Linked DNA regions of Homo sapiens: region 2 is linked to region 1. Evidence: fine-mapped QTL for protein levels in blood plasma. A gene starts in region 1. The other region holds a variant in brackets. All regions are shown on one strand. Distances are from middle to middle.

Region 1 (2,580 bases):
CGACCTCCTCCTTCAGGGCACCCAGCGCCGCCGTCTGCTTCGAGGCTGGAACGACCCCCGCCCCAAAATGCATGCCCCTCGGGTCACTTGGGAGGACTCAGGGGACCCCCTTCCAGCCTCAGGGACCATAGGGCCCCCACGCACTCGAGACTCCATCTCCGGGGTCTCAGAAACTCCCGCCCCTCACGCCCCGGGGGCCCAGGCGCCCGGCTCTGCACACACCGTTTGTCCTCAGCAGGTCGTGGCCGTCAAGCAGCGCCGCGCGCTCCGTGGAGGCTGAGGAGAGAGGCTCCTGCAGGCGAGGCCGGGAACTCGGGAATCCTCCCCTCGCCCGGGGGGTGCAGCGTCCCCCAACTCGGGAGCACGGAGCGGGCGGGCAGGCATACAGCTCACACGATGTGCACACACGCCGATGGGAGACAAACGCGCGGGGACTCGCGCACATACGAGCACGCCATGTGCACACGCGTGAGTGCACACGGCCCAAAGATGTACACACACTCTGCTCACACTCAGACGCGAACAGGACCCCAGGATGCAGCTGGTGCGCCATGCAGTGGGGGTTTTCTGTCCCCAGGGGGGCCGGATGCAACACCTCCCCATTGAGAGTCACTCACCCTTGGACAATAGGATACTCAGAATCACAGCCCAAAGGACTGTGGTGACCAGGACAGCCAGGGCCAAGAAGAGGGGTCTCCTGCTCCAGTGCACCCAGCGTCCCCAGGGCCCTGGCATAACAAGGACGGCATGCTGGGTCCCCCAGAACTGAGCCCTGGAGGCCTGAGTTACTCCCAGGAAACTGAGATTCAGAGAAGTTAAGTAACTTGCCTATGGTCACACAGCTTCTAAGCGGCAGAGTTGGAATTGGACCCTGGTCCAACTGGCTCTATGGCCTGTGGTGTCTCTCCTGCACCCACAACCCTGGCCTGTCTCGACTCTTCCCTCCCCTCCCCCATCAAACCCCAGACACTGGGGCAGGGATGGGGCAGTCTCCTTGCTCATACCTCCGGGGACCTCCTCGGAGCTGCCGCCCCACTTGCTGTACCTGGTGGTGTCCATGGCGATGCAGGCACCCAGTCCTGGGCAGAGATATAAATTTCACGCCTGTTCTCACTGGACCTACGCACTCCCTTCCTTCCTTCCCATTTTCTTGGCCTTAATTCCTGGCAACGGGAACCCATGGACCAATCACAGGATTGGGCCCTTTCAAGGCTGGGCTGGGCTGGGCTGGAGTGAGGCCGGGCGGTTCCAGCCTCCTGGTTCTGGCCACTGCAGCTCCATCCCCAGGCTGGTGCTGGAGGCTTCTCTTTGGAGCTTAGTCACCATCTCTTATGGGCCTGGGGCTGGAGGCTTCTCTTTGGAGCTTAGTCACCATCTCTTATGGGCCTGGGGCTGGGTTTTATCCCGCGAGGGACACACTGAACCCGACCAAATTGTAACCCCTGCTGGCTCCTGAGAAAGCCCCCTCAGGCATAGCCCCCCAGGCCAGTTCAGGTCCCTTCTCAACTCCCCTGCAGGTGCCTGCAGAGGCTGGGTTTGAACCTGACCTTGATCCAGTCCCTCTGTACCAGAAGGGAACAAACAGTTTTGTTAGGGAGGTAGCCGGCGGAGCTGCAGGACTCTACCACTGTATGGGTTCTAGGTAGCTTCTAGAAGCCTTAGTTTTCCCCACTGTAAAGGAGATAGCGATGGGCCTCTCTCACAAAGATGCTATGATAAAGAAACAAGACAGTCTTGCTGGCTCACACCTGTAATCCCAGCACTTTGGGAGGCCGACATGGAAGGATCACTGAGCCCAGGAGTTCCAGACCAGACCAGCCTGGGCAATATAACAAGACCCTCATTTCTGAAAAAAAAAAAAAAATATATATATATATATATATATGAAAACAAAAATTGAAAAAATAAAAAAATAAAGACAATGAGGTTATACATGTCTACCTAGCACCATTTCAGGCATATCAAAAACACTCAGTGTTCATGCATTCTTTCAACAAACATTGAGCACCTGCCATATGCCAGGCATTGATCTTGGAACTGGGGCCACATCAGAGAGTAAAATAAGCAAATTCCTCTCTTCTTGGAGCTAATATTCTAGAAGTGTGGGGAGACAGACTCCATACTCAACGTAATAAACATAATTGAAAACATAAGTTGTATAGCATAGTAGTTCCCAGCTGGGGGCAATTACGCCCACCAGGGGACATTTGGCTATGTCTGGAGACACTTTTGGTTGTCACAGAATGTGTGTGTGTGTGTGTGTGTGTGTGTGTGTGTGCTCCAGGCATCTAGTGGGTAGAGGCCAGGGATGCTGCGCAAAGCCCTACAATGCCTAAGACATCCCCCATAGCAAAGAATGATCTGACTCCTAATGTCCATAGTGCAAAAGGTGGGAACCGTAGTATACTCTATTCAAAAGTCATAAATGCTATGAAAAAACATTAAGGGAAGAAAAAATCCAGTAGGATAAGTACTTGGCAGGACTGGGATGGGCACTAGGCAGTGGGCAGTGGCTAGGGTGGCCAGGGCCAGCCTCACTGACAAGGTGAAATGTTGAGCACTTAATAGAATGTTCCAGCC
Region 2 (3,018 bases), 34 kb after region 1:
TGGCGCCCTGGTGCTGCAACTCCTCTCCTTCATGCTCTTGGCTGGGGTCCTGGTGGCCATCCTTGTCCAAGGTCAGGGGCAGGTTCTGAGGGTCTGGGGTCCCCAGGCCTGGCCTTTTGGCTATGAACAGAGCCTGGAGTGGCCAGGTCTGGGAGGGAGGTGGGACTGAGAGCCAAGATGTTGTCCCTGGGGGTCTGTAGGGGCCTCTCCCACAGCCCCTCCCCACTCTAGAGCAGGACAGGAGAGGGAGGAGGAGGAGGGGAAGAACCTGGCTCTCCTTGGCCTTCTGTGCTGCCTTCTCCAGGTGTCAGTTTTCCTCATCTTCAAAGGGGATTAACTGAGACCTTGGCTCTCACAAATGATGTCTCTATGGGGCTCAGTTCAGGGCTTGGCACACAGTAGGTGTTTAATAATTGCAGTTCCTTTTCTTCTTGGCCCAGTGTCCAAGGTCCCCAGCTCCCTAAGTCAGGAACAATCCGAGCAAGACGCAATCTACCAGAACCTGACCCAGCTTAAAGCTGCAGTGGGTGAGCTCTCAGAGAAATCCAAGCTGCAGGAGATCTACCAGGAGCTGACCCAGCTGAAGGCTGCAGTGGGTGAGTTGCCAGAGAAATCCAAGCTGCAGGAGATCTACCAGGAGCTGACCCGGCTGAAGGCTGCAGTGGGTGAGTTGCCAGAGAAATCCAAGCTGCAGGAGATCTACCAGGAGCTGACCCGGCTGAAGGCTGCAGTGGGTGAGTTGCCAGAGAAATCCAAGCTGCAGGAGATCTACCAGGAGCTGACCCGGCTGAAGGCTGCAGTGGGTGAGTTGCCAGAGAAATCCAAGCTGCAGGAGATCTACCAGGAGCTGACGGAGCTGAAGGCTGCAGTGGGTGAGTTGCCAGAGAAATCCAAGCTGCAGGAGATCTACCAGGAGCTGACCCAGCTGAAGGCTGCAGTGGGTGAGTTGCCAGACCAGTCCAAGCAGCAGCAAATCTATCAAGAACTGACCGATTTGAAGACTGCATTTGGTGAGTTCCTGCACATCAAGGGTCCTTGGGCCTGAGATGGTCTCTGTGTGATGTGACTTTACTTGAGTTACCAACCCTGCCTGAGCCTCAGTTTCCTCCCCTGTGAAATGAGAACACGGGGTAACTGCGATCATTGCACTTGGTGTTCACAGTGGGCCAGGCACACAGTAGACACTCAGTTCAACCAATCCGCTGCCTTCTGTTCTGAGCTCTAAAGCTGCTAATTCTCCCAGTCTGGAAGAGATGGAGCCAGGACTCCTGGGTTCTCCTGGGGATCAGGGAGAGTCTTGGGAAGTAGGGAGAGGAATGGTCTCTCCCCATTCCAAGCGGTCCAC[C/G]CAACATGGACAGTCAAGGAAGGGCCCTGATTTTCAAGGGCTTGAAGGCTGGGCAGATATGGGAATATGGACAACCTAATCTGAGCCCAGCCCTGACCAGCCTCCCCCAACAGAACGCCTGTGCCGCCACTGTCCCAAGGACTGGACATTCTTCCAAGGAAACTGTTACTTCATGTCTAACTCCCAGCGGAACTGGCACGACTCCGTCACCGCCTGCCAGGAAGTGAGGGCCCAGCTCGTCGTAATCAAAACTGCTGAGGAGCAGGTACACGTGGTGGGGGTCCTCGTCCTGGCCTGGGGCATGGCTTCTGGCCAACTGGGGAGGAGGTGCTCAGAGAGGATTTTGCAGAAGAGGGGCTTTGCTCTATTTGGAAAGATGGGAAGAGAAGGATATGAATGAAGGGGTCCCAGGTACCCTTCAAGCAAATACAAACCAGATCTGAACACATGTGAATATTTGGGGGAAACGTCAAATGTAAGCAAACCACCACAGCATGCTGCAGGTGTTTAACGGCCAGCTCTCCGGAGAGAAAATTCCTGATGTGTTGTGTTTGCCAATTTCCCCAGTGTAAATATTTCCACTGCGGCTGATTTCAAGCTGTGATGTGCTGTCACTCAGTGCAGAGCTGAAAGGAGATGTGCTGGACCAGCAATTAGTAGTGGGTCCAATGTGGCTCCAGTACATGAAACCCAGTCAGGAGTAAATTCATGTGGACATGCAAAATAGATAAACATGCAGCATTCACAGGAGCACATGAGGAGAGGCCAGCTGTGCATGCGTGCCTGCATGTCAGGACACACATGCCATGGGGATACAGATGTGAGAGGGGCTCAGACATGAGGAGGCTCAGGACCTGCTATATCAGAAAACTGCAGGTTAACTTGAAAGCAGAACTTTCTGCCAAGAGACGGGGAGGTGGAACCTGGAAAATGGGAAGCAGAGCTCCCTCCTGACTCCTCCTCTACCCTCCAGAACTTCCTACAGCTGCAGACTTCCAGGAGTAACCGCTTCTCCTGGATGGGACTTTCAGACCTAAATCAGGAAGGCACGTGGCAATGGGTGGACGGCTCACCTCTGTCACCCAGGTAGATTCTGGGAGAAAGGGACACTGTATCCAGTCGGGCTGGGTTCCTGCAACTCTGACTTGAGCTTTCCCTGGGGGTCCCCCCCAACCTCCCTGACCCCATAGGACTAAGAGTCTGGGGTTTTACTGAGTTGAGGAAGGTGGTCTTCATACCCACCTCCAGACAGGATGAAAGGTGCCAAGAATTCCACCAGCAGAGCTGCAGGAGGAGCTTGCCCTGTGGGTAGGTGTGTTAAAATACAGTGTATTAATAGGAAGTCTGAAGTCTAGTAAGGCCACCAGCTCAGGAGACAATTGCCATTTACACAAAGTGAGTAGCTTATCCTACCCACAGGTTCCTAGAGGGCGCACATTTCACAGCAGGGGGCCGCTGGGGAAGCAGCAGGGTCTGTCGTGAGGGAAAGTCATGGAGGGGACTGTGGGCCAGAGCTTTTATTATGGTTTGCATGGGGAGAAAAGGGCAAGGCCAGGCAAGCAGGCTTCAGATGGGCAGATATGAAGCATTTTGTGGGCTCTGGGGCATAGAGGCTGCCTAGCGGCCTGACACCTGGCCTTGGGGTGATTAGGGCAGAAAGATAGTGGCTTGGA

Alleles and levels. Alleles are on the strand shown, and positions count from the first base shown. The strength of an association depends on the size of the effect and on how common the allele is.
For the plasma level of the protein whose gene starts at base 1,067 in region 1, C is the low allele of the variant in region 2 and G is the other (weak association).

The links. A credible set is the group of variants that fine-mapping cannot tell apart. PIP is the posterior inclusion probability: the model's chance that the variant is causal. Protein levels are from antibody-based Olink assays in UK Biobank. Linkage for the fine-mapping came from a reference panel and not from the study's own genotypes, which makes the PIPs less certain.
Region 2: its variant is the best candidate, but not a certain one, in a credible set for the plasma level of the CLEC4G protein (UK Biobank, PIP 0.62).

The regions. Positions count from the first base shown.
Region 1 is chr19:7,731,044-7,733,623 of GRCh38, forward strand. CLEC4G (C-type lectin domain family 4 member G) reads right to left here and starts at 1,067. Exons shown (of 9, transcript NM_198492.4): 1 at 1,005-1,067; 2 at 618-728; 3 at 223-276; 4 at 1-45. The coding sequence starts at 1,059. RefSeq lists promoters at 1,062-1,668, 1,062-1,374, 1,062-1,325 and a cis regulatory region at 1,132-1,141.
Region 2 is chr19:7,765,198-7,768,215 of GRCh38, forward strand. It overlaps CLEC4M (C-type lectin domain family 4 member M), which reads left to right. Exons shown (of 7, transcript NM_014257.5): 3 at 1-71; 4 at 441-1,010; 5 at 1,459-1,610; 6 at 2,319-2,431. Among named protein-coding and RNA genes, the nearest start is that of CLEC4M, 3.5 kb to the left of the region's middle. The variant C/G (reference allele first, on the strand shown) is at 1,346.